4 separate regions of the Homo sapiens genome follow, and regions 1, 2 and 4 are each reported to be linked to region 3. The links are microRNA targets in miRTarBase. Many come from high-throughput screens and were not tested one by one. Region 3 holds a microRNA gene; each other region holds the end of a gene's coding sequence. Distances are from middle to middle.
Evidence for each region. The annotated mature microRNA hsa-miR-625-3p reads GACUAUAGAACUUUCCCCCUCA and lies in region 3 at 4,127-4,148, shown strand. An mRNA with a match to its seed (bases 2 to 7 or 8) in the 3' UTR can be bound and repressed. Matches are read on the target gene's strand: a 7mer-m8 pairs with bases 2 to 8, a 7mer-A1 pairs with bases 2 to 7 and ends in A, and an 8mer does both.

Region 1: the mRNA of KCNC4 is a reported target of hsa-miR-625-3p. Seed matches in the 3' UTR shown: 7mer-A1 at 6,126-6,132.
Region 2: the mRNA of HIF1A is a reported target of hsa-miR-625-3p. Seed matches in the 3' UTR shown: 7mer-m8 at 1,212-1,218.
Region 4: the mRNA of BAG4 is a reported target of hsa-miR-625-3p. Seed matches in the 3' UTR shown: 7mer-A1 at 1,123-1,129.

The regions. Positions count from the first base shown.
Region 1 is chr1:110,232,197-110,239,318 of GRCh38, reverse strand. It overlaps KCNC4 (potassium voltage-gated channel subfamily C member 4), which reads right to left. Exons shown (of 4, transcript NM_001039574.3): 4 at 5,275-6,408. The coding sequence ends at 6,347. Among named protein-coding and RNA genes, the nearest start is that of KCNC4, 25 kb to the right of the region's middle. RefSeq lists a silencer at 2,775-2,884 and enhancers at 3,396-3,896, 3,897-4,397.
Region 2 is chr14:61,746,615-61,753,736 of GRCh38, forward strand. HIF1A (hypoxia inducible factor 1 subunit alpha) reads left to right here. Exons shown (of 15, transcript NM_001530.4): 15 at 320-1,644. The coding sequence ends at 471. HIF1A-AS3 (HIF1A antisense RNA 3) reads right to left here and starts at 4,483. Exons shown (of 3, transcript NR_144368.1): 1 at 4,271-4,483. HIF1A-AS2 (HIF1A antisense RNA 2) reads right to left here and starts at 2,475. Exons shown (of 1, transcript NR_045406.1): 1 at 425-2,475. RefSeq lists a silencer at 4,505-4,814.
Region 3 is chr14:65,467,027-65,474,148 of GRCh38, forward strand. It overlaps MIR625 (microRNA 625), which reads left to right and starts at 4,076; the gene lies at 4,076-4,160. All of the region lies in intron 2 of FUT8 (fucosyltransferase 8), which reads left to right. It also overlaps the pseudogene RPL21P8.
Region 4 is chr8:38,209,882-38,217,003 of GRCh38, forward strand. BAG4 (BAG cochaperone 4) reads left to right here. Exons shown (of 5, transcript NM_004874.4): 5 at 127-3,420. The coding sequence ends at 612. Among named protein-coding and RNA genes, the nearest start is that of DDHD2, 18 kb to the right of the region's middle. RefSeq lists a silencer at 830-1,124.

The sequences.
Region 1 (7,122 bases), not on the chromosome of region 3:
AAAAGCAAGTGGAAAAACACTGAAGGTGAGAGAGCTGGGGATGTGTGGGAAACTGACAGGAAAGTGAGCTGCTGGTCTCAGGGGCTGAGAGCAGGGGCATGAATAGGTCTGCGGAGGCAGGAAGGCCATGAGGAGCAGCAGGGCATCACAGGCCCTCCTAAGGAGTCTGGATTGTACACGAAGTGGGAACCCAGCCATTGACAGGGTTCTAAGCAGGGGTGACATGATCTGATCCAGTTTCCATTTTAAGAAGCTCTCTCTCTGGTGACTGGGTGGAGACTGGTGGCAGAAGGGCAGATGGGACCCAGGGAGACCTGGGAGGAGGCTCCTGCAGAGCTAGAAATGTAGAACTTGGTAATAGGTTGGAATACGGGTGGGAGATATTTTTTATCTATTGGTCTTCTGGCCTCTCTCCCTGATTAGAATGTAAGTCCCATGAGGGCAGGGATCCTGTTGGTCTTGTTCACCATTGTTTCCCTGAGGACAGAGTTCACAGGTGTTTAATAAAGATTTAATGCACGAAAAATGAGTGAGTGAATTAAGGAATGAGAGGGTGGTTTTGACAACATCTATCTCAGCCTCAAGGTGAATGGTGGCAGCACGCTGAGGGGGACCAGGGAGGCAGAAGGGTGGGATCACAGCTCGGCATCAGGGAGCTGTGAAGACACCCAGGCACTGCCACGCAGGTGTGTCTGTGAGCAGGGAGTGCATGGGGAAGGGAGTGTCTGTTTGGGTCCCTATTGTACACCCAGGTTGTAGAGCAGTACCTGGGACAGAGATGCCACATATGTTTGCTGAATGAATGAACAAATGAATGAATGGAGCTGACGGGATTTCTGAACTGGAACTACACAAGTGGATGACACCAGTACCTGGAAGATGTTTAAGGCAATGGGAGGGGATGAGGTCACCCAGGAAAGAGTATGTGAGGAGAGAAAGGGAGCAAGCCCTAGCCCCCACCAGCAACCAGAGGTTGCTCATTTCAGAAGCAGAGGCCCTAACTCAGCCCCAAGGGGAAGCCTACATTTCTGTAGACTCGTATTTGATGGCTATAGCATATGCTTGCTAACCACTGCTCTTCTAGGGATCCCTGGAGAAGCAGGCAAGTAAGAGCGGGGAGTGGAGAAGCCCCCATAACCTGTGGGGAAAGAAAGGAGAGGCTTCCAGTGCCAACATCAGAAGGCCTCTGACCTCTTTGACTTGCAGCTGTAGCCGTTTGGCTCCCTCTCCTCACCCCCTAAAGCTGGGTCGGAGACAGCCTTGTCCCCAGAGTCCCCAGCGGCTCTTTAGCATGATGCTGCATTTTGAATGCGGTTACCACAGCCCCAAGTGACTGAGCCAGCTCACGTGCTACCTCTTGTGTGGGTACCAGTGTATGCACACACAGGGCTTGGAGCCAGGAACGGAAAGAAAGTGCTCACTGCAATAATGCCACAGGAGCCCCACGAGGGTGGGCACTGGATGGCATCACAACCCAGGCCCAGGACACTCCCCTCGCTCCAGACTAGAGGAGACACAGATGTCTCTCTGCCCTGCCCTATATCCCTGATGGGCTGGGAAGAGGCAGAGAAGAATTTAAGGAAAATCTTGCTAGGAAAGGAGTTCATCTGAACCCCATCTGAATACCTGTGTTCTGGACCTGCCTCCACCACTAACTAGCTGTGTGTGCCACGTGAGTCAGAAAGTCTTAGGATTGGAAACAGTCTTCTAATTCCACCTCCCACGCCGAGCAGAAATACTTCCCACGAACCCTGGTGCAGCACATGATCATCCACTGTGTCTCCAAACATTTTCAGGGAAGGGAACTTCACTACCCCGCAGGGAAACCCATTTTGATTTGGTAATTTTGTTAGAAAGTTTTTTTTTTTTCCAAAAAGCCTGGGAGGACCCACACCAGATGTTAACCATGTCACCTCTGGGGAGGAAAGTGGGACTGAGGAAGGGTGACAGGGGATTCCCTGTTGATTTGGTATGGGGATGGTTTCCAATACCTTGTATTAAATAAATGTTTGTTTGAGACAGGGTCTCGTTCTGTCGCCCAGGCTGGAGTGCAGTGGTATGATCATAGCTCACTGCAGCCTCAACCTCCTGGGCTCAAGAAATCCTCCCGAGAAGCTGGGGCTACAGGCACATGCCATCACACCTGGCTAATTTTTCTTTTTCTTTTTTTTTGTGTAGAGATGGGGTCTCACTATGTTATCCAGGCTGGTCTCAAACTTCTGGCCTCAAGCAATCCACTCTCCTCAGCTTCCCAAAGTGTTAGGATTACAGGCATGAGCCACCATGACTGGCAGTAATAAATTTATAATAGCAAGGGAAACAACAGAAAATAAGGTTCTTATATATACCTACTATGTACCCACAAAAATTACAAATCAAAAATTTCATTAAAAAAAGATTTTTTAAAATTTAAACCCAATCTGCCCTCCTAACATTTCCACCTATTATTTCCGGATCTGCTCTCTGCAATCAGAGAAGAATCTAAACCCACTTCCCCACAGGTACCCTTTAAACACCTGGTAGTTGGGATCAGGTTTCCAAGACTTCTCCAGCTTGAGCCACTCCTCATGTAACTTGGGTTCCAGAGCAGTCCTACCCCCACTTACCCACTTCTGTGCGTCAGAGAATAAAACTCCAGTGGGGTCGCAGAGGGAAGGAACCAAGCAGTCACTGAGCTGGGTGTTGCCTGCTGCTAATTAATGAATGAATCCCAAGAGGACATTCCTCCTCGCTTTATGTGTGTGTGGGGTGGGGTACATACACGTAAAAGGGAGAGTGAGTTTAATGATTCACTTCTCCAAGCCTTGGTTTCTTATCTGTAAAAGGGGAAAACAATACCTTTGCTATGAGAATCAATTGCAGTTAAGGAAATAACACTAAAAGCACAAACTCCTACACTGGAGGTTATGACTCACAAGCCCCACTCAGTTCAGAGAGTGGCTAAGCATTGGACCCACAGAGCCAGACTGAGTTTGAATCCCAGCTTTGCTACTTAATGGCTGTGTGACTTTGGAGAAATGACCTGACATTGTTGTGTTGGTTTTCTCCTCGTAAAACAAAGGTAAGGATAACATCAATCTTGGAATGCATCTTTATAAGCATGAAATGTACTGCCCAGCACTCAATAAATGTTCGCTGTTAGGTATAATCATCCCCTCTTATTCCTTCACAAGGAGATAAGGACTAAGGACTTCAGTGAAATGAGGCTGATTCACTGAAAAGTGAGGTCATCAAACCAAACTGGTCATCTGTTACTGGAGTGAGTTGCCCCAAAATACTCCCCTCTCCCTCTAGCAATGGTTATGTGCTAGGCACTGTGCGCGAGGCTTTACAGGCGCCGACTCATTTCTCCTCATGGCTCAATGAGAGAGACACGGCCTCAGGCAGATACTACATTTAAAAGATGAGGAAATAGACGTTCACAGAGGCTGAGTAACTTGCCCAGGGTCACACAACAAGGAAGTGATGGAGTCAGGACTCAAACCCAAGTCTGCCTGACTTCAAAAGTCTGTCTTATTCTTTTAAACAATGTCCTGTTCTTTTAACCAGCTCCCTACCTTGGGCTCGACTCCAGCTTTGGGGAACAGGAGGAAGCCAGAGCCCTTTCTTCCTTGACAGCACGGCCTGCTGTTTCTGTGAGGTGGGGAGGAGGGGCAGTCTGCTGCTTCTCTCGTCCACCCCTCCACCCTCCTGCACACTGCCCCCTCCTCTTCCAGCAGCCTGAAACGGTCACTGGGGACCCCAGTTGCCACCCCTTCAGTCCCCTCAGGACCACTCTGGCATCTAGTACCCCTGCTGCTGGCTGGGTTCTCAGCCCCTGACCATGAAATGGTTCCACATCGATCTACAGAAAAAACAGCCACTTTGGCCGTGGGCCCTGATGCGTAATATCATTATGGAGTCAGCAGCGCATCCCGTCCCATTATCGCCTGGCCAAGCTTTTCCAAGGCCAGCCTGGCTGCAAATGGCTTTCTCCTGTCTAGGGGGGCCACAGCCACTGTTTGCCCTCCACTACCGGAGGAGAAATTTTATCTTTAATTGACACTGGCTGCCTGCCACCCCCTTGCCTCGGCTGGCCCAGGCTCCAAGCCCGATCTTTCCTTACACTTCAGGAACAGGCTTCCCCTGGCTTCTTCCCTCTCCTCGGCCATTCCGTCCTCACCCTGCTGTTCTACACTGCCCAAGACAGCTCCCGGGTGTGTTCTTGTCCTTTCTTGGTGCAGCTGGACACGGAGATCTCAGAAGTCTGTGGAGAAAAGTCTGAGAGTGACAGGAACAGGGCAGGGAGGGAGCTGACACTGTGCCGCTACTATATGTCATATCACAGGTAGACACATGACACCAGGCCAGGCTCTTCACTCTGTCTCTGAAACAGGGGCCATCATTATTCCCTAACAAACAGGGAAACCATTTCGGTGAGTCACCCCCAAGTCACCCAGCTAGCAAGCAGCAAAGCAAGACTTTGAATTGAGGCCCCTATGGTCCTACACAGATGCCCAGAGTAAGAGTGAGGAGTAAGACAAGAATAAGGAGAGGCAAGCAGGCAACCAGACCCGCCAGAGCCTGGTGCAAGATGGAAACGCAGGGCCCCTGTTCAACCATTATTAATTTCATGATGGTGACAGCCAAGCATTAAACCCAGCATGGGGCCCTTCTGAGTGGCTGCACAGGTTGCACACCCATGAAGCTGGCCCTGCGTGTGCCCCTATGTGAACGTGAGAGGGATAACAACAGTGAGAGCCAAGGGCCACGTCTGACCATCACTCACCATCTCCCCGTCCTATCCAGGCCCAGGATGTGTTCACTCTCCATCCCTAAGTGGTCCCCAGTTGTGCCACCAGTCTCTAGTTGGCCTCAGTTCATCAGCCATCCAGCCAATAACTTTGGCGTCCCCAGGGTCTTGGCCCATTTAGAACTGGTACAATTGCAGGGAGGAGGGGAGGCCCCCTGCACAAACGGAATGCAGTGGAATTCCTTAAACAAAGAACAGTCTTTTCTTCCATGTTATGGCAGGGGCTTGGGGACAGCAGTGGATATTAGAACACTGTTTGGGTCTCGGGGTCCTGGGTTAGTCCTCTTTGTGTGGCTTTGGGCAGATGACTTGCCCTCTCTGAGCACTAGTCTCTCCCTGTAAAATGCAGGGGTCAGGCCACACTGATGATTCCTGCTGGAGTGGGGTTATGCTGAGTGTGTGCACTCCTCAGGTGTCAGGGGTGAGAGCCCCAGGAGGTCCCAATAGACACAGAGCCAGAAAGGAGAGGCAGAGGCAGGTGCTCACACAGCAGGAGCAGCAGGATGCTCCAGATGTCTTTATTGGGGCTCGAGCACAGCATGACAGTTGGAGGCATGCAGACAGGGCACAGGGCCCAGCCTGGGCATGCCCCAGACACACACGAGGGGACAGCTTTAGAAAAGGACTGACCAACACCAGGGAGGAGCAGGGAGGGAGGGCCAAGGGAGGGGCAGAGGCCAAGGCTGAAGGGGTCACCTGGCCTCTGCTATTGCACGCATCCTCTGGCCACTGACCAGGAAGTACAGTATTGCAACTGGTCTCCTCTTGCCCAAGGCTTCCCTTCTCGGACCCCCTGGGCCAGATGGGCAGACAGATCCTTTCCCTGCCTGTCTGCCCAGCAGCATCTTTGACAACAAACAGACAAAGGAGAGAGAACAAAATCAAATCTAAAAAAGACAAAATGCCCCCCTAAGTCAAGGACATAGATGGGGTGGAGGAAGTAGTGGAGGAGGCTGCAGAGGAGCCCCTGGAAGTCCCCCCACAACGAGGATGTGGGGTGGGAGGTAGAACCCCAATCTGGGGTGGGGTGCGGCTAGTGAAGCAGTGACCCTAGGGGGCAGTCTGGCCTTCAATAGACTTCACCAGGTTACTTGCTGACAGGGGAAACATCCCCAAGACAGGAGCCTGGGACTACCCAGCTGGACTGGCAATTCCCAGATGCACTTTTCTTGGGACATTCCACCCACACAGTCAGCAGAAACAACAGAAATCAGTGAAGGGGACGGGAAACTCTGGGTGGGGCAAGGGCTTAGGGAGACACAGCCTAACAAAGAAGACAAACCACCAATAGCACGTGCACTACACACAAGAGTATAATATGTATGAATATAGATACTATATGTGCATATATATCTCTTCGATGTACAATGGAACAGAACATCAGACCCAGATGGCTCTGGGCCCCGAGGGTCGCATGGGAGATTTTCCACCAGTCCTGTGCAAACAAGGATATCTGAGTCTTTCCCAGCGAAAAGATTCTTGTCTGGGTTCCAGAGTTTCCCTAAGCCTCTGGCTTTCTGTCTGTCTGCCTGTCTCTCTCACGTTGGTGCCGCTTTAAGAGAGGGTGAGGACTTCAGCCTGGGCATAGTTGGACGAGAGGGCGTCTTGGCAGGTCTCTGTGTTTAAAGAGCACAGGTGTGAGACACTGGGACGCACGCTTTCGGCTCAACATTGCCTTCTGGGGTTGGGGGGACAGGGAGTTCAGCAAAAGAAAGGGAGAAACAAAGAATGAGACGTTAGAAGGAAGCCAGCTGCTGACCCACAGGGTGTGGGCTAAGGAGTAGACCAGGAGCAGAGCTGGAAGGCATGAGGAACCCAGGGCTAAAAGGCCAGGAAGAGCATGGATGGGTCAGGGAATGGGGTGAACCCTTCACCCCTCTGCCAACCCAACTCTGGTGACTCAGGTGATGTTGTAGCTCATCGCCATACCTGTTCAGGTAACCACTAGCTCCAGGAACCACTAGCCTCTTAGGTCTTCAAAGCTCCAGTGCAGTGGAGAAAGGGACCATAGCTCTGCAGCCTTGCATGGAGGCAGTGGGGAAAGTTCCTGATGTGGCCTGTGGCTCACAGGCCATCACCCCAGCTGTTGCCTGACCAACTTGAGCTCTCCCCCAAGTAGCTCCATCTGCTGTCACCACCCTGGGATATTCCATTGTCCCAAGGAGCTGGTGAAGAAGGCTCCTGAGTATGATGCCATGTCGTGCCCAGCCCCCTTCCTCAATGTGGCAGGAACAGAGTCCCAGCAGTTGGAGGGCATGCAGCCTCAGGTGAATGCTGAAGGGGAAGGTCACGGAGGACGAATGTGCCTGTCTCAGGAGAGAAGGTCAGGA
Region 2 (7,122 bases), 3.7 Mb from region 3:
AAACTCCTGGCCTCAAGTGATCCTCCTGCCTCAGCCTGTGCTAGGATTACAGGCATCAGCTTTGATGCCCACCATATTTATGCCTTTTTCCAAATTGTTATTTCTTTGTGCCTTTATTGTATCCTGTAAACATTTCTGACACAGCAACAGTATCACTGGATTATACTTACTTTTTAACATAGTTGTGGTTTTGCCAGGTAAACTAAAAACCCTTCCAGAATTTTGCTTTATTTTCTATGATACCTAACACATTGTGGGTGTTTAATAAATATTCATTGACTAGATGAATGTATACTTAGGTATCTCTTTTGTTTTTCAGATTTAGCATGTAGACTGCTGGGGCAATCAATGGATGAAAGTGGATTACCACAGCTGACCAGTTATGATTGTGAAGTTAATGCTCCTATACAAGGCAGCAGAAACCTACTGCAGGGTGAAGAATTACTCAGAGCTTTGGATCAAGTTAACTGAGCTTTTTCTTAATTTCATTCCTTTTTTTGGACACTGGTGGCTCATTACCTAAAGCAGTCTATTTATATTTTCTACATCTAATTTTAGAAGCCTGGCTACAATACTGCACAAACTTGGTTAGTTCAATTTTGATCCCCTTTCTACTTAATTTACATTAATGCTCTTTTTTAGTATGTTCTTTAATGCTGGATCACAGACAGCTCATTTTCTCAGTTTTTTGGTATTTAAACCATTGCATTGCAGTAGCATCATTTTAAAAAATGCACCTTTTTATTTATTTATTTTTGGCTAGGGAGTTTATCCCTTTTTCGAATTATTTTTAAGAAGATGCCAATATAATTTTTGTAAGAAGGCAGTAACCTTTCATCATGATCATAGGCAGTTGAAAAATTTTTACACCTTTTTTTTCACATTTTACATAAATAATAATGCTTTGCCAGCAGTACGTGGTAGCCACAATTGCACAATATATTTTCTTAAAAAATACCAGCAGTTACTCATGGAATATATTCTGCGTTTATAAAACTAGTTTTTAAGAAGAAATTTTTTTTGGCCTATGAAATTGTTAAACCTGGAACATGACATTGTTAATCATATAATAATGATTCTTAAATGCTGTATGGTTTATTATTTAAATGGGTAAAGCCATTTACATAATATAGAAAGATATGCATATATCTAGAAGGTATGTGGCATTTATTTGGATAAAATTCTCAATTCAGAGAAATCATCTGATGTTTCTATAGTCACTTTGCCAGCTCAAAAGAAAACAATACCCTATGTAGTTGTGGAAGTTTATGCTAATATTGTGTAACTGATATTAAACCTAAATGTTCTGCCTACCCTGTTGGTATAAAGATATTTTGAGCAGACTGTAAACAAGAAAAAAAAAATCATGCATTCTTAGCAAAATTGCCTAGTATGTTAATTTGCTCAAAATACAATGTTTGATTTTATGCACTTTGTCGCTATTAACATCCTTTTTTTCATGTAGATTTCAATAATTGAGTAATTTTAGAAGCATTATTTTAGGAATATATAGTTGTCACAGTAAATATCTTGTTTTTTCTATGTACATTGTACAAATTTTTCATTCCTTTTGCTCTTTGTGGTTGGATCTAACACTAACTGTATTGTTTTGTTACATCAAATAAACATCTTCTGTGGACCAGGCCCCTTTGATCAGCTTTTATGTTCAAATATTAATAATATTTGCTTCAACACCTCCAACTCATAAAATTGTTTACCAACAATTTAAGCACTTATGAAAATTACATGGTACTGGTTATTTCTACATTTATCTTAGTGCCATCACCTTAATGTATGTTGAGTCCCTAAATGTCATGTTAAATAATAACAACCATAATATCCCATTGAAAAGAGTATGTTGTTAGAAAAGAAACATCATTTTTAAGTTTCTGAGCCTATTAAAATGCTCAAACACAAAATATTAGTATTTTTAAAATATGAATGGGATGAGTGAAGCAGTTCTCAGCATTATAGTCACAATGTTACAAAGGCTAGAGCTTCTCTGAAGATTTCTAATCTGTTCCCATTAACAGATTAATAAATTTAGACTTCAAATGAATAATTTGCCCAAGCTTTAAAAGTAATAGATGGCAGACCAAAAATGTAAGCTTAAGTTTCCTGACTCTAAAGTCAAACTTAGAACAAATTTGGTTTGTTTTTGTTTTAATGATACTGCGTTTTAAAACAAAGTAGCTTTATCCTTTTTCTCCTGTATTTTTCTTTTACAAAATAGCTGTATTTCTTTTATACTGATAATCTCATTTTTAAAAATCAGACAGTGTAGAAAGATATTTTTTAAAACAGAAAAATCACTATGAATCCCTGCACCTACAGGTACAGAAAATTATTTTTATGAACAAATTATGTAGGAAGTGCCAGAGCCTTAGGTCCTTTACCCTGAGGTATATATACTGAACAAAAGGAACTGAGCCACAGATCTCTTAGGTAGCTCTTTTTATCTTACAATGGAGGACAGTGATTACAATTATATGAAAATTTTGGAACAAAAGTTAATACTAAGATTCAGTGCAAAATTTGGGGGGGGGGGGGGCACAGGTATACTTAAGCACAAACACTGTGACCCAAAGTGCTTCAACATTTAGTTACAGATAGTAGTATACTAGAAGTGGTATTTTAGAATAAAGTGGTTGCTTAGTATTCACAGGTCACAAAACAAAAAATTATTCTTGTATAGCAAATTAGCTTCAGTTGAAAACTATTTGTAAAAGCAGATTATGTAATGACCAGGAGTTCAGGAAAATGACTTCTGAAAGCATTGAGAAGGGAAAGCCACGTTAAAGGACAGTACAGCTGGAAGGAAGCAAGTACTTACCCACTGCTCAGTCACTAAGACAACAAGCTCCTTGGAGTGCTTTAAGCTACGGAATAGCAGAACTGGCCCTTCCCAATTTTATGCACCGTCACAAATTTCTTCATAATGGTTTTGTCCAAGGCTTATAACCCAACCCTGGCAACTATAATCCTTACTTTATGAAACAGCTGTATTTCTTTTATACTCATAACCCAGAAAAATGAGAATGTATGTTCTGAGTATAAAAGAAATGTAGCTATTCCATAAAAATACAGGAGAAAAAGAATAAAGCTATTTTAATTTTTTTAATGCAGTATCATTAAAAAACAAACCAAGTTTGTTCTAAGTTTGACTTTAGAGTCAGGAGACTTAAGCTTACATTTCTGGTCTGCCATCTATTACTTTTAGAGCTTGGGTAAATCTTCATTTGAGATCTAAATGCTATATATAGTTCATTCATAGCAGTACCAGATAAGGGAGGAGTATATCTATACAGTATATAGTCTTGAAGAAGTGATCTAAGGCTCGGAGCTTTTGAGGTGGCCATGAGTGACTCCAAAGTCCATGGAGCTAACCACCCTGCAGTGCTAGCCAATCCAGTTGAACATACCCTTTTCTCCATTGTTAACTGTTTGTTTAAATAGCAAACAGAAGGCGGCAATGGAGGTGTGGAAAACTGAGGATCCGATGTCACTTGAAAGTAATGAGATCACATAACATTGAGGGAATGTCCTAAGAGGAGTGGCAGGGCATAAATAGAAATGAATAAAAGTGTTTTCAAGTGCCATTTAGTGGGTTCTGAATTTGAACTAGAGATTGAGATATCCAGTTATGGAGACATTAACTCAAATTAACAAGGTAGTGAATGGGAAAGCACAAACTATAAAAGACTGTATCAATGTATGGTATTTTTTCCCAGAGCTGTTTTGACTTAATGGCATAATAGATATGTTTAAGTTTTTATAACCTCACGATTATCATTCCAAATCTTATTTTCCTCCTAGAAGCCTCTGTACAGAAAAGATGAACTTAAAATTACTCGCTTTGTAGAAACTTAATCTAAAAGTTCAAAATGTTTAAGTAGCAATACCTAAAACAAGTTGCAGAGTAAAGAATCCTCTTTTTTTCTTTTTTTCAACATTAAGATTTGGTTAAATAAAACCTTTGCAAACGTGTTGCCAGCTGGAACCAACAAAAATGTAAAGAAAAAAACTTTTACTTTTTTTTTTTTAAGTTTTCCACTAACCACTTTGCTCACATTTCGTTCCTTTAAATAGAGATGAACCTGTCGTCCCAGATTATTTTACAGAGAAATAGTGAAATTAGTGGAATTCGATACAAAAATAGTCTCCCTGTAGGATAAAAGTTATACTTTACCATAAACCTTCCTATGAACGCCTTCTGGAGCTTTGATGTGTTCACACCTTTCAGAGGTTTGGACATAATTTTTATTCTTACCTGTAGTGGATAGTTTTTCCAAGACGCTGCCCAGACACCCGATCTCCGTGTACTATTGAATTTCGTTTATTCCCTTGTCTTGGCTCCATTCTGGGACGGAGAGGAAAGACAGGTGCCTGAGAGCGGCAGCGGTCAGAGCCCCGCGGGGAGAATACCAAGCATGCGGAAGGTACCCGGCACCCTTCTGTTCCTGGTGTGGCTGGCGCTACATGATGAGGATGCGAAACCCAAGCCAACCCGAGAAACTTCCCGAGCCCCGCCCGGCGCGCGGCAGGCCACGCCTCAGTACGTGCTCGGGCGCAGCACCGCAGTCCCGGGCCCCGCCCGCGGCCCCGGCCGTGGGCTCCAGGGCTCCAGCCGCGCAAGGCGACTTTCGTGTACGCTGTGGGGTGGCTGCTGCCCGCTGCGCGTACGTGTGGGAGCGCATGCGGGAGGCCCTGGCCGCTCCTGGCCTGCGAACGGGCGGCGCCAGGCGTGGGGGGTCAGCCCTGGGCTTTGTCTTCTGGGACTTGTCAAAGTCGGAAGCCTAGTGCTTCCCCAAACTTTGTTTTTTAGATGGGGGGGGCGTGGGCGAATGGGACTTGATGTATTGCGGAAGAGCTGCCTCCCGAAATTCCCAAGCAAATGCTTTGGGGTATGAAGCTTTTTCTTTGTAGAATAGAAAAAGTTGAGTTCTAACAGATTGGATAGTGGTTAGTTATATAATACTTTTTTAAAAAAAATTAGACATCTAATCAAAAATAGAGGAGTTCTATGTTTATTTAAATATATTCCTCTTAAGGCACTCAAAGAGTTCGTTTATTTTAAATAAAGCACGTTGAGATATGCCTAGTTAAGGATCTCGAAACTTTATCCCACTTGGTGCCGTTTTTATTTTGGTGGTTTTGTGGGGGGTGGTTTTTTGGGCTTTTTACTGTTTTGATTTTATTGTATGCCAGCTATTGAGAATCCTTTGGGAGAAGATAATCTTGTTGGACAGAAGGGAGATGAGTGTATAGAGTACGGAAAAAGCTTGGAGCCTTAATCTCTGTAATAATTGGTATGTTCAGATTGCACAATGTATTATAAAGTACAAAGCCAGGTATTTAGAATAAATAACTTCGCCTCTGCATATCCACAGCTCACTACATTTTACATTTTATTTTCATTTGTTTCCTTCAGGAAAATTCATTGTTTGTGGTTTCCTCAAATAGCATTTTATAGAAAGCAAAGGTACACTTTTCAAAAGTAGTTGAGGTGTTTTAGATACTTTTTTACTAATAAAAACTGATCTGTAGCCTCACTTATCATATGTGTGTGTGTTCGTGTCTAATCAGGGAGGTGCCCTTTAATGAGAGTGCCATAATTCTTTTGGTCCTACGGATGCATAATCATTATAGATGGACAATTTTCCATAGAAGAGAGCAGGCTGGTGGGGCTGTAATATTTATCACAAAGGGTCATGCTTTTTACAAAGTAGAGAAACACTGTGTAAAGTCAGACAAGTAGATTAGGATTCTGTGAAGTAAAATCTAATTTTAAAGATCTTTGAAATATTAACATTAAAAACCCTGTTTTATGTAGAGATCCTTTCCAAATATGACTGGATAATATTATTTCCTCTGAAATGGATTTTTAAAAACGGTTCTACATACAACTGCTATGACAAAATCTTTCATAGGCGTACAGAAACAAGCTGGACAGAAGTCATAAACTGTTGCCTGACTCCCTAATCTGCTGGTAGAATATTAAAGCAAAAACCTAAAGAAAGTGAGCTACAAATACGGAAAATTAGAAAGGAGCCAATACAGCCTGGGAGGTACTTTGCATCAGCCTTTGCCTCTTACTTAGAGTTTTCCCAACTGCAAATATTTATCATTCCTGTGAATTTCCTTATCACTTCCTCTTTAGCTTTCTCACTTCTCTTTTTTTAACCTTATAATTTTTGCATGTCTTATCCCTCGTACTAAACTCTTAGTTTCTTCAGAGCATGGTTCCCATCTGACTCATCTTTGATCCGTCCTAAAGCCTTCCACTCTGCATGCGCAAAAACAACTCACACATGATCCAAGGTGGAGAGGATTTCAGGTGTGTCAGAGACTAGAGAAGAATTATGATCAGAGGAACAAAGTGGGGAACAGAACCATTTTCTAGCTCTTCCAGGGAGATCCATTCAATCAATGAGTAGTGTTGAGTGAGTACAAGATATTATTCTAAGACCTCTAGGTGATATAAATATTCTAGAATATGGTGCCTGCTATCAAGGGTGCAGTTAATTCCCATTCTGTGAGGTATTCACAAATTCAACTGTACTTGTGCAAACACAGTTGAAATCTAAATAGAGTTTTTATTGGCCCTTTGAGATGTTCCAAGCCACCGTTACCTTTCCTTTTCATGGACTGTCTCCAGCTTGATAATCACCGTCTCCAGCCCAGGGTGCTCCCCGCAGGCGCCCCAAATTTGGCATGTCAAAAATTAACTCCTTATTTGTCTTCCAAATGGCTTCTCCTCTTGCATCTCCTGCTCAAGGAATGGCACCATTCAGTCTGAAACCAGAACCCTAGAGGTCACTTGTCACTACTCCCTTATCTACCATATATAGTCTGACACAGTCCTTTGCTTTTCTTAAATTATAATTATGGAAACTTGAACATGTACAAAAGTAAAGAGACTATAATGATGCCAAAGTGTCTTTGCAATTTGTGTTCTCTGGGAAGTAGACTCTGAGATGGAGATTTCAGGTGATTTATTGGGGAGTGCTTTTCAACACATGTGGAAGAGAAAGAACAGAAGTAGGCAGAGGGAGAAACAGCTGAGGAGCAGTCCCAACAAAGCCTTTAGCAGCCACATGGGGAGCTCTGGAACTGCAATAG
Region 3 (7,122 bases):
AAAAACAAAAGATTTAGTTTTACCTTTATTTTTTTCCTCTACACTCTTCCTTTCTTTTTGTAATCCATATTTCTGATCTATATAATTTTCCTTCTTTCTGAATAACTTCTGTTAACATTTCTTGCAAGTCATGTTTATTGGGTTTCATTTCTCCCAGTTTTTATTTCAGAAAGTCTTTATTTCTTCACTTTTGGAGGATACTTTTGCTGGGATTCTATAGGCATTCTAGTTTGGTATTTTATTTTATTTTTTTTAACAGCCCAGAGGTCTTATTTTATTTTATTTTTTTGAGATGGAGTCTCATTCTGTTACTCAGGCTGGAGTGCAGTGGCACGATCTTGGCTCACTGCAACCACTGCCTCCCGGGTTCAAGCGATTCTCCTGCCTCAGCCTCCTAAGTAGCTGGGACTACAGGTGCGCACCACCACACCTGGCTAATTTTTTGTATTTCTTTTCTTTTTTATTTTTGAGACAGAGTCTCACACTGTCGCCCGGGCTGGAGTGCAGTGGTGTGATCTTGGCTCACTGCAACCTCCACCTCCTGGGTTCAAGCGATCCTCCTGCCTCAGCCTCCTGAGTAGCTGGAATTAGAGGCGCCCATCACCACGCCCAGCTAATTTTTTGTATTTTTAGTAGAGAGGGTTTCACTATGTTGGCCAGGCTGGTCTCGAACTCCTGACCTCATGGTCTGCCCGCCTCAGCCTCCCAAAGTGCTGGGATTACAGGTGTGAGCCACCGTGCCCAGCCAGTCTAGAGGTCTTTTATTTTTTTTAACACCTGTTATGCTATGAATTCACAGGGAATAGGTTCCAGCAGCTCAGGCTCCTTCCCACTGGTTCTCACAAAGTGTGCTTCTCTGGATGGAGCAGGCTGGTGCTTCAGTAGAACCCGGGTACCTTTCTCTTTGGCTTCTTTCTTTTTCCGATCATTTTCCTTTACGTGTTTCAGGAAGCTATTTTGGCTCTTAGAGTGCTGAATGTGCTCAATACGCACATTAATTCTCTTGGCAAGAATCTTGCCCTTAACTTGTTTGTTGACAAGTTGTTTACAATACCAACAGCATGCTGAGTAACGTGTTTGTTTACAACTTGCTTACAGTGCCAACAGCATGTTGGGTAACACTGCAGACTCTTCCAGTTTTGCCATGATAACACTCGCGGAGCATTCCTTTTTGAATAGTACCCATTCCCTTGATGTCTACAATATCACCTTTCTTATAGATTCGCATACATGTGGCCAAAGGAACAACTCCATGTTTACTAAAAGGCCTAGAGAACATATATCGGGTGCCTCTCTTCTTTCCCTTTGTGTTCGTCCTTTTGGCGAATTACTGGAAGATGGTGGTTCCGGCCGAAAGGTTGGATTTTTTTTTTTTTTTTTTTAACACTAAATATTTCACTTCACTCTTTTTGCTTGCATGGTTTCTGAAGAGAAAGTTTGATCTAATTCTTTATTTCTCTGTGGATAAGATGTTTTCTGTGTGTGTTGATTTTTTTCTTTACCTCTTGCTTCTTTCGAGATATCTTATTGGTCTTAAAGTTAATAAGGAAAAAACTAAAGTTTTGCTTTTGATTTAGTTTTCTCTTTGTCTTATTTTCTGCAGCTTCACTATCATTTGCCTATGTAAATATTTTGGTATTTATCTTGCTTGGTGTTCTCTGAACTTCCAGGTTTGGTGTTTCTTACTAAAGACATTCTTTCCTGTTACAGTGTTATTGATTTGTACACTCCCCTTCCTCGCCTCCCCTCTTCACTGTTTTTTCCTTCTCTTTACTCTTCCTTTCTTTCCACAGGATCTCACTCTGTCACCCTGGCTGGAGTGCAGTAGTGGCGTGATCATAACTCGCTGCAGTCTTGAACTCCTAGGCTCAAGTGATTCTCCCTCCTCAGCTTCTCAAGTAGCCAGGACTACAGGTGTGTGCCACCATGCCTGGCGATTAAAAAAAAAATCGTAGAAACAGGGTCTCCAATGTTGCCCAGGCCGGTCTTAGAAAAAAGGACTTAGCTGGGCATGGTGGTGGCATGCACCTGTAGTCCTACCTGCTTGGGAAGCTGTGGCAGGAAGATTGTTTGTGCCTAGGAGTTCAAGGCTACAGTGCGCTGTGAATCACCACTGTACTCCAGACTGGGTAACAGTGAGACCCTGTCTCAAAACATATATATAAAAAAAAATTCCTGGTGATAATTTGATAATTCCTGGTAAAAATTTCTGCCACATCCGAGTCTGTTTCCGAGGCTTGCTTTGTTTCTTCAGATTGTATTTTTTGCCTTTATAGTGCCTCATAATTTTTTTTCATAGCCAGACAGAATGTATCAGGTAAAAGGAACTGAGGTAAATAGGCCTTTAGTGTGAGGTTTTATGTTTATCTGTTTAGAAGTCAGGCTGTGTTTAGTGTTTGTTCTGGCTGTGGTATCGGAGGCAAATGTTACGGGATCTTTAAGGTGTTGCTTTTCTGTCTAGAAACCTCTGTGGCCAGTGGCGCCTTTGCCCGAGTTCTTGTCCTGTGTCCAGGAAGAATTATGTATGCAGACAAGTGGAGGGTGAGCAAGACAAAGAGAAGCTTTACTGAGTGTTAGAACAGCTCAGAGGAGAGCTGCAGAGGGCAGCCCCTCTCTATAGGCAGGTTGTCTCATCCAGTGTTCAGCTCTCAGCAGAGAGGAGGCCCTGGAGTGAGTGGCTCCTCTCTGCAGGCAGGTCCCCATTGACTTCCCAGCTCTCAGCAGAGACGATAGCTCCTCTCTGCAGCTAGTCATCTGGCTGTCTCTCTGGCCTCTGCCCTGCTCTGGCTGATCTCGGGGCTTTTATGGACCTCAGTGGGGAGGAAGTGTGTCAATTGGTACATCGGTGGCCATGGGTGGGCTGGAAAAGGCACCACAAGCCCCCACTGCAGTCTGCGGGACTGGCAGCCCGGTCCCCAACGTTCAGGCCCTCCCTGGCCTGAAGGTGGGGTCTATCTGGGGACGTGCCCCCTTCCACCCAGGAGCCTGTCTGCTTCCTGCCACTTTCCATGGCTCCCAGGCTGCTTGTGCCAAGGGGCACCTGCCTGCCAGCATGGAGCAGCTCTCCACCTCAGCTTCCTCAGAGGGGGCCTAGGCGGCAGGGCCTGAGCATGCGCATATCCTGTTGGGCTGTGATGATATCCAGGCTTGGCTCCAACCCCACTCTGAGAACCTGCCACATTGGAGCCGGTGCGGGAAGTGGCAGCGGGAACAGGCATTTCCGAGCCTGCAAAGGCAAGGGGGGCCTTCCTGAGCCCCCAAGAGCACACGGAGGCCTGGGTCCACAACCCTGACTTGGGTAGCTGCAGCTGTATGGGGTTGGGGGACAGGGCTCCTGCCTGTTTCCAGTCCCCAAGAGCACATGGAGGCCTGGGTCTACCACCCAGGCTTGGGTGGCTTGGGCTGCTGCCTGCTCCTGGCTCCCACTGGCACTGTGGAGCATGCAGCCCTGGCTCCGCCCCCTTTCAGCCTGAGACAGGGGCTCCAGATCCTTGCTGGACCTGGGCTGGGATCCGGGGCAGGGGTGACATCGCCGGGAGCTACCCCAGTTGCCCTGGCGCTTCAGTGGCCCAGGCAGAGCAGATAACTGTCCGGCCTGGCTGTTGGGAGTGGCAGGCTCAGCAGTCGCCTGATGTGGGGTGGACCCTGGGGATGTAGCCCCGGGCAGCCCTGCACAGAGCCTCCTCCTGAGGCCCAGGAACCTGGCACCCTCAGTGGGGTGGGCGCAGTGGCTGTGTCACTGGCTGGTCCCTGAAGTGGGCACCGCTCCCACTTCCTGCCTCAGGCCCCTGAAGCTCAGCCTCAGCTCTGCATCGGTCTGCTCTCTGCTTGACTGTGCTGCACAGAGGGCGGCGGGCTGTTGAGGGAGGGGGTCTGTCCGCCTCTCCCTGTGCCGTCCATGTACCAGAAAGCCACCGCCATCACTATTAGAGGCTAAAATTTCTTCTACTGTCCTTGCTTTTATCTGCCCTGTTGTCTTTGGGTTTTTGTAAAGAATCCTTAAATGGGGTCTGAGGCTTGCAGGTTTTTAAGTTGTAATCCTGTGTTGTACAAGAGCTGTACTGATGTGGTGGTAAGGGTAGAGGGATGAGGGGGAAAGTTCTATAGTCCTGTAATTAGATCTCAGGACTATAGAACTTTCCCCCTCATCCCTCTGCCCTCTACCAACTGTGAGCCTGAGTTGAGTAACTGTCTCTTTTTCTCGGTCAAAGGATAGATGGGGCTGGAGTTGGGTATTTCCCTTCCCTCCGGTTGGTTAGGCACTGTAAAACCGTAGTAGGTTAGGCAATCTAAAAGCCAGTTGGTTAGGTTCTGGTAAAATAGTTTCCTTTTCTGGAATACCTTTTAAGAGAAATAAAGTTCCTGGCGTATTTCAAAATGGTTTTTCTTCTTCCCCTGCTGCAAGCAGGAGGGGTTTTTTTTCAGATCTTTACCATGAGAACCTGGTAGGGCTCCTGGAGGTAAAACTCAGGAAAGTATGGGGACCCCTGTAAGACTGGTCCCCTTACAGTTTTTAACTCTCAAGCTAGTCCACAATTACTGTTTCAAGTGTTCCTACTGATGCTGGCTTCAGTTGAGAGCTTGTATTCCTGGACTTCTGCTTCCTGCACACTGTGATTCTCTATCTGCCTGTCTTGTCTCTCCAGGTTTTAGAGCAGCAGTTTGCCCTCTGACCTCAATTCTCTGATGGCTCTAAGAAGAGTTGGATTATCAGTTTTTTTTTTTTTACCCCCAGCTTTTTTTCTTGTCGTGAGGTTGGGAGTGATGAATTACAAGCTCTTTACAACTGTACTTAAGGTTATTTTTTGACCATTTTTGATGCTTTTGTAACTAGTCAAAAGACTTATTACAGTATCCTTTATCTCATTTGGCAGTATTGTTCATTAAGAATTTTATCTCTTTCTGACATCAGGTCTGCACATTTTGGGGATAATATATTCTAATTTGCAAGAAAGATTAAAAAACTTCTCCAGAGGGAAGTTGATCATAGGACTGATTCTTATTATTGATGAATTGACTGCCTTGTCTTGTTTTGTGTTGCTATGTAGGAATACCTGAGGCTAGGTAATTTATAAAGAGTTTGATTTACCGCACAGTTCTGCAGGCTGTACAAGAAGTATGGCACCAGGATCGGCTTGTAGTGAGGGCCTTAGGCTACTTCCACTGATAGCAGAAGGCAAAGAGGTGCCAGCTTGTGCACAAAATGAGAGAGGAGAAAAGGGTGGGAGGAGGGGCCCTGGCTCTTTTTAACAACCAGCTCTTGGGGGAACAAATAGAGTGAGACCTCAAGCATGCCTGAGGAAGAGCATTAATTTATTCTTGAGGGTTCTGACCCCTCCCCACCATGCCCAACAACATCTCCCATTAGGCCCCACCCCCAACATTGAGATCAAATTTCAACAGGAGGGACAATCATCTAAGTGATAGCATAGACTCAGGCTATTTACTATTCTGTTTTCAAGTATAGATTGAGGGCAACAGCAGCCTTTGTTTTCTATGTTGATGGCCAAAGGTTTATTTTTATATTCTTATACTGTAAAAAAAAAAACAACTTTATTTTTATAGCCTTTTTGGGTGTAGGGTCATGTCAGGCTTTACTAATTGCACTTCTGATAAGTATACTGATGATGCTGAGGATGGTTATTAAAGCCCTATGCTGATACTTTGGATTTATGGAACCAATTAATTTGATGACTCATTTACATTGAATTTCTTAATTAGTAGATTGCCCACTAATTATTTTTATGAGCACAGAATAAGGTAATGTTTATTCTTATTTTTTTTGTGATATGGTAAAAAACTTAGTTCATATAATGAATTTAGTGCTCAAATATCTTAGTAGAAATTGAAGTAGAAAAAGACATTGTTGTAAATTAAATGTAAGATATAATTTTATTTTCTTTAGAAAACTTTACATTGAAAAGATCACATTATAGATAATTTAGACAACTTATTTATAACTTTTATTTATTATTATTATTGAATGTAAAAGAATTACATGCAGTCCCATGATCTTAACATAACTGTGGTTACCATGTTGGTATATGTGCCTTTTAGTCCTTTTTCATACACAATTTTTTTTACAAAGTTATAATAATAATTTCTTTTCAAATTTGTGCCTTATTTCAGTTAACAGTGTAAATGTTTCCCATTTCTAACAATGTTTTCTCATTGAGTGAGGTACTGTTAGGTTGGTCAGACTGATAGTTTATTGTACGTATTGCTGTAATATCTTTGTACATTTAGCTTTTCCATGTTTGTACCATATCTTTGGGTTTTCAGAAGTCTGTCTCTCTCTCTGTTTCTCTTTTTGTCTGTCTTTTCTATCTCTCACCTTCATTTGGGGAGCATTTTGTGTTCTCTTTCACAGGACTAATTAAGTTTTATTGGATCTTGAAAAACGGGATTAGAAATTTTTTCTTACTTATATAATTAGAAAACAATGCTTTTGGACTTACATTGCCACGGCAGTTTACACAGTTTTATTCCCAAAAATTGTAGTTTTGTGACTAGGTGATAAAAATGATCTCCTATATGTGCCAAACTTGGTATTCTAGACACTCATACTTAGGATGTAAATTGACTGTAGTCCAATAATTTAATATGTTGTGTTTAATTCTTGTAATATTTTACTCACAAATTGAACTTTTCCTTACCAATTTAATGTTTGTAGGCTTAATTTGGCATCTTTGTCAGGATTATTAGACTTCTCTGCATTCTTCTGACTTCTCCCTAAACTAATGTTTAGAACTGAATTGGGTCCAGCAATTTAAGTGGAAAATCAGTATGACTAGAGACTTCTAGAAACTTCTGGTGTCACTGAGATGGTGAATTTGATGATTCTGACCCTACTTGCTCATCTGTAAAAGCTATTAGAGGATTGTTTTAAGCATTTCTATTCTATACAGGTATATGTACACCATGTAATACCACTCAGCCATAAAGAAGAATGAAATAACATTTTTGCAGCAATTTGGGTGGAGCTGTAGGCCATTATTCTAAGTGAAGTAACTCAGGAATACAAAACTGAATACCATATGTTCTCACAAGCGGGAGCTAAGTCATGGGTACGCAAAGGCATACAGAATAGTAAAATAGACTTTGGAGACTGAGACGCGGGGA
Region 4 (7,122 bases), not on the chromosome of region 3:
ATTTTATTGTTAGGGAATCTTTTCATGTACCTTTCTGGTCAAGTGAAAGATGTGGGCTAACAAATTTGATGTTGATGCATTCCCATTAAAACAGCTCTTTTCCTCTTTTTGCTCTCCCACTCCAAGGATTCTTCATACCCCTATAGCCAATCAGATCAAAGCATGAACCGGCACAACTTTCCTTGCAGTGTCCATCAGTACGAATCCTCGGGGACAGTGAACAATGATGATTCAGATCTTTTGGATTCCCAAGTCCAGTATAGTGCTGAGCCTCAGCTGTATGGTAATGCCACCAGTGACCATCCCAACAATCAAGATCAAAGTAGCAGTCTTCCTGAAGAATGTGTACCTTCAGATGAAAGTACTCCTCCGAGTATTAAAAAAATCATACATGTGCTGGAGAAGGTCCAGTATCTTGAACAAGAAGTAGAAGAATTTGTAGGAAAAAAGACAGACAAAGCATACTGGCTTCTGGAAGAAATGCTAACCAAGGAACTTTTGGAACTGGATTCAGTTGAAACTGGGGGCCAGGACTCTGTACGGCAGGCCAGAAAAGAGGCTGTTTGTAAGATTCAGGCCATACTGGAAAAATTAGAAAAAAAAGGATTATGAAAGGATTTAGAACAAAGTGGAAGCCTGTTACTAACTTGACCAAAGAACACTTGATTTGGTTAATTACCCTCTTTTTGAAATGCCTGTTGATGACAAGAAGCAATACATTCCAGCTTTCCTTTGATTTTATACTTGAAAAACTGGCAAAGGAATGGAAGAATATTTTAGTCATGAGTTGTTTTCAGTTTTCAGACGAATGAATGTAATAGGAAACTATGGAGTTACCAATATTGCCAAGTAGACTCACTCCTTAAAAAATTTATGGATATCTACAAGCTGCTTCTTACCAGCAGGAGGGAAACACACTTCACACAACAGGCTTATCAGAAACCTACCAGATGAAACTGGATATAATCTGAGACAAACAGGATGTGTTTTTTTAAACATCTGGATATCTTGTCACATTTTTGTACATTGTGACTGCTTTCAACATATACTTCATGTGTAATTATAGCTTAGACTTTAGCCTTCTTGGACTTCTGTTTTGTTTTGTTATTTGCAGTTTACAAATATAGTATTATTCTCTACTTCTTGGTACATTTTGTAGTAATATGTTTAATATAATTATTCAAGAGACTATATTGACAGCCAGATAGTATGGCAGTTCTGAAAAAATTTATATCTTTTCACCACTTGAATATACTGCAATGTGTAGTGAGTAAATTGTCTCCCTTTTTCTATAGATCATTAGGTTAGAGTTTTTTTCTTCTTTTTTTTTTTTTTTTTTTTTTACCACTTCTGCTGTTCATGGTAGTAGTGGAAGGTAAATTTGGAAATGGCATTGACATAAAATGAAAATGTTTACGGACACTTTTCTTTTTTGCTTTTTTATTGTATTTGGATAAAGATCCACTTAAAAGTTATCTGTTTTTTCCTGTTTTTTTTTTTTTTCCCCAAAGTGTAGTTATGTTTTCACTATTGCTGCTTCTATAGAGGGCATTGTGATAGAGAGTTACAGATGAAACATTAAATGCCACAGTGAGTAGAAATAATTACTACAAAAAGTAATAAATATGATTACTTGGTAATATCATTCTCCATCTAAAATACTAGTTTCACCTGTGAGCAGATTTCAGCTCAGTTTATAGTTAAAAACAATGAGGGTAAAATGGGATTCATGCTCAGGGAATGAATCAGCCATAGTTAGAGTGGGAAATTATTATTTTCTTCATTTAAAGGTAGATTTTATGTTTATTTCCCTAAATTGCATAAGATAAAATTGTCTGTTTAATAAAAAGACATTTATTACCATTATTAACAGTCATTTTAGAGCCAAATTTAAGAAAAGGATATTGAAAGGGTCTTTATTGGCCTTGTTTGGGTAACTCTATGCTGTTAGATAGAAGAGACTTAGGTAAATAACTTTTTATGTCTGAGGTGAGTACACAATATTGGTTCTTGGAAAAATAGCTGTTTCTTCATAAGATACCCAAGTGATAATTTTTTTTCCCCTAGACTGTCAGGCCTATGAGTAAATACTAAATCTATTAGCTGTCCCCACTCATAAACCAAACCAAACCAATACAAACAGATGAGGAGAGGAAATGTAGTAAAAATACTGGCTGGGTCTTATGATTGGGATGAGTGATTTTATAAGATAATATGGTGATAATTTTATTCTAGGATTTTATTTTTGGCCTAATATAGGAATGTTTAAAAAAGGCTTTTCTATGAAAATTAGAAATTTATACTTGAAATTAAAAGTCTAGAAGGGGGAGGACCTTAAAGCTAAGCTACCAGTAAGACAATGAATAATTCAGAAGAGAACACTATTCTTTTACTGACTGAGTGCCCAAGATGCCAATTTCCATGAAGTCTTGATTTATATATATGTACACATGTTATGCACATACATGTTTGTTTTCTAACAGTTATTTTTTAAGCTTTTGAGATAATTTTAGACTTACAGAAGAGTTGTAAAAGTAGTAGAGTTCTTGTATACTCTGCACCCACCTTGCCCTTATGTTAACATCTTACGTAACAATAGAACATTTGTCAAAATTAAGAAATTAACCTTGATATAATACTAACTAAAGTAGAAAGTTTAAAAAGTAGAGATTTTAGTCTTTTCACTAATGTCCTTTTACTGTTCCAAGACCCAGCCTTGCATTTAGCTATCATGCCTACGTCCTGTCTTCCAGTCTGTGACAGTGTATCATAACAGGGGATACCTGATGTTGTAATGTATTTCTGGTGTTGTTAACCTTGATCACTATGCTAAGGTGGTGTCTGCTAGGATTCGCTACTGTAAACTTACTGTGTTTTCCTTGTAATTATTGAATATTTGCTGGAGATACCCGGAGACTATGCAAATGTCCCGTTTCTGCTTAAACTTTTGCTCATTTTACTATCCATTGGCAGATCTTGCTTGTGGCAGTTACTACTGTGGTGTTCTAATGGTGATTTTCTATTTCTCTCAATCCTTCTACATTTATTATTGGAATTCTTCTGTAAGGAAGAGTTGTCAGTTCTGGATTTATATTTTTAACTATAATAAGATATTCAGGATAAGTATAGATTTAGAACTTAAAGATGTTAAATCATGTTAAAATTATTCCAAATACCAATATCAAAGAAAACTAAGTTGGTAATCTATCTCAGAAAATATATGAACTTAAGAAGGAAAATAGTATTTATGATTTGTAGAATTGGTTCAACTTTTGACTTAATACTGACTTTGGACTGAATTCAAAGTTTTCTTGAAATTTCACATCTGGACTTTTTAAAGTGTCTACATTTATATTACTTTGGGGATCATTTTGTCAAAGTCTTGAATAAAGTTACCCAGTCCTGGCATGATAAACACAACTATGTTTTTTTTTTTTTATAATAACCCTCTGTTGTTCCAAGTATGAATGCCAATGAAACTGTTTAAACAAATAAGCCCTAATGAAGTATACAGGGGTTGGATTATATGTGTCTCCACATGTTGGTGCAGAATTCTTTTAAATGCTTTTAAAAATGGGGTTCTGAAAACAGTTTTTCAGTTGGTTAATGTAAATAATACCATTAAAGCTAGGCAGGTTAAAAAAATTTTGAAGAATGTAGATTAAATAGGCATAAAAAAGTTTTTGGGGGATGGATAGTTGATGGAGCTTTTCTTTTACAACTTTACTTTTTTTTACTTATTTTTTTAAAAAAGTAAGGAGTTTACCTCAATTCGTAGAAGTTACGAGTTTAAAAAGTCAGTTCTATGAAAGGCAGCATTCTCCTGATCCCACCCCCATTTCTCCTTCTCTAAAGGCAACCACTTTCAACTGAGTTTTTCTTTTGTTAATCAAAAAATTTTGTTTTTAGAGACAAGAGTCTTGCTATGCTGGTCTTAAATTCCTGGGCTCAAGTGATCCTTCTGCCTCAGCCTCCTGGGTAGCTGCGACTACAGGCATGGACCACCTCAACCAGCTTCAACTGAGTTTTTATGTTTTTTTTGAGACGGAGTCTTGCTCTGTCGCCCAGGTGGGAGTGCAATGGCGCGATCTCGGCTCACTGCAACCTCCACTTCCCAGGTTCAAGCCATTCTCCTGCCTCAGCCTCCTGAGTAGCTGGGATTGCAGACATGTACCACCACGTCCAGCTAATTTTTGTATTTTTAGTAGAGGCGGGGTTTCACCATGTTGGCCAGGCTGGTCTCGAACTCCTGACCTCAGGTGATCTGCCCACCTTGGCCTCCCAAAGTGCTGGAATTACAGGTGTGAGCCACTGTGCCTGGCCAGGTTTCCAGGTTTCTCTCTCTCTCTCTTTCTCTCTCTCTCTCTCTCTCTCTCTCTCTCTCTCTCTCTATATATATATATATATGTTTTCTTTACTTTTTTTTTTTTTGAGACAGAGTCTTGCTCTGTCACCCAGGATGGAGTGCAGTGGCATGATCTCGGCTCACTACTGCCTGAAATTCCTGGGCCCAAGGGATCCTCCCGCCTCAGCCTCCCCAGTAGCTGGGAGGCATGCATTATGGCACCTGGCTAATTTTGTAATTTTTTGTAGAGATGGAGTCTTGCCATGTTACCCAAGCTAGTCTCAAATGCCTGGCTGGGCTCAAGTGATCCTCCCTCCTTGGCTTCCCAAGTGCTGGGATTACAGATGTGAGCTACCACACCTGTCCTCAATATACTTATTTGGTAGTTTCATTGTACGTTATCCTGACTATGTAAATGCTAAGGAGAGTTTAGCTATATAGTAACCTGATTACTTTTCCTTTCCTAACAACTTGTTTTCCCTGGAATTAATCATCTGTCATATTTGTTTTGTTTGCTTATCTACCTAAGACTGATTTGACCTTCTCTCAGTCGTCTAAGTCTCTCAAGATGCTCAGACAAGGCCCGGCATGGTGGCTAATGCCTGTATGCCCAGCACTTTGGAAGGCCAAGGCGGGAGGATTGCTTGAGCCCAGGAGTTCAAGACCAGCCTGGGCAACATAGTGAGACCTCGTCTCTATTTAAAAAAAAAATTAAAAAATTAAGATAAATACAAAATGATTAAAAATTATTAATATTGGCTGGGCGCGGTGGCTCACACCTGTCATCCTACTGCTTTGAGAGGCTGAGGTGGGTAGACAACTTGAGGTCAGGAGATCCTCCTGGCCAATATGGCAAAACCCCATCTCTACTAAAAATACAAAAATTAGCTGGGTGTGGTGGCGCATGCCTGTAATTCCAGCCACTTGGGAGACTGAGGCAGGAGAATCACTTGAACTCAGGAGGTGGAGGTTGCAGTGAGCTGAGATCGTGCCACTGCACTCCAGCCTGGGCAACAGTGAGATTCCGTCTCAAAAAAAAAAAAATAAATAAATATATATATATAAAACATATAAATATATATTAGAAATATATATTTAAAATATTAAATATACATTAAATATGTAATATATATTTAATATATAATATATATTTAAAATATATATAATATAAATATATATAATATATATATATAAATATTTTATCAATTTCAAACTTCTGAAGAGTCTATCCTGAACCCTTCTGACTGGAAAACTAGTATGTTCCTGGCATAGTACATAGGGTCATGCTGTGGATTCTTTTTGTCTCTTCTTTTGGTTTTCTGTTTTTTGTATCCTATGTCTTTCTCTTTTTGTTTATTCCGTCATTTGGTGGAGCATATTCTCCAGGTGCTTCCTGGAAAAGGGTGCATGGGAAATAATTTATTTTGATCTTGCATATTTGAAAATGTCTGTTCCACCTAGCCAATGGATTGATAGTTTGGCTGGGTATAGAATTCTAGGAAATGATTATCTTAAGGATTTTGAAGGCATTGTTATATTGTCTTGTAGATTCCAGAATTGCTGTTGAGAAGCATATGCCATTCTGATTCAAGATCCTTTGTATAAAACCTGATATTTTTCTCTAGAAGCTTATAGAATTTTTGGGGGGGCCCCATTTGTTCTGAAATTTCCTAAGAATAGCTTTGGTTTAGGTCCATTTTTATCCGTTTTGCTGGGGCCATTTCATTCTGGCAACTCATACCATTAAGTCCTGTGAAATTTTTTGATTTTTTGTTTGTTTGTTAATTTCCCTCTTTCCTCCATCCCAGTCTTCTCTGTTAATACTTTCTAGAATTACTACTGTTTTGACTGTAGGCCTCATAGACTGGTTCTTTAATTTTCTTATGTTTTCTGTTTGTTTGTTTTTTTTTTAATGTTTTGCCTTTTTGTGGTACTTTGTAGGAGATTTATACAACTTTATCACTTTTTATTTTTATTTTCTGTGTGACAGGGTCTCATTCTGTCATCCAGGCTGGAGTTCAGGGGCACAATCTCTGCTCACTGCAACCTCTGCCTTCCTGGTTCAGTTGATCATCCTGCCTCAGCCTCCTGAGTAGCTGGGTTACAGGTGCACACCGTCACAACTGGCTAATTTTTTTTGTATTTTTTTGTAGAGACAGGGTTTTGCTAAGTTGCCCAGGCTGGTTTTGAAATCCTGAGCTCAAGCGATACACCCACTTTGCCTTCCCAAAGTGCTAAGATTACAGGCATGAGCTACCATGCCTGGCGAACTTTTTCTTCTGACTTCTAAAACATTGTGTCTTACATTTCTTCCATCTTTTTTTTTGGTTTTTTTTTTAGAAAGACTGTCACTCGGTCACCCAGGCTGGAGTGCAGTGGTGTGATCTCAGCTCACTGCAACCTCCAACTCCCAGGTTCAAGCAATTCTCCTGCCTTGGACTCCCGAGTAGCTGGGACTATGGGGACCCACCACTACGCTGGCTAATTTTTTGTATTTTTAGTAGAGATGTGGTTTCACCCTGTTTGCTAGGCTGATCTTGAACTCCTGACCTCAAGTGATCCACCCACCTCCACCTCCCAAAGTACTGGGATTATAGGCATAAGCCACCATGCCCAGCCTCTTCTATCATTAAAAAAAAAAAAAAAAATTGGCTGGGCGTGATGGCTCACGCCTGTAATCCCAGCACTTTGGGAGGCCGAGGCGGGAGGATCACAAGGTCAGGAGATCGAGACCATCCTGGCTAACATGGTGAAACCCCATCTCTACTAAAAATACA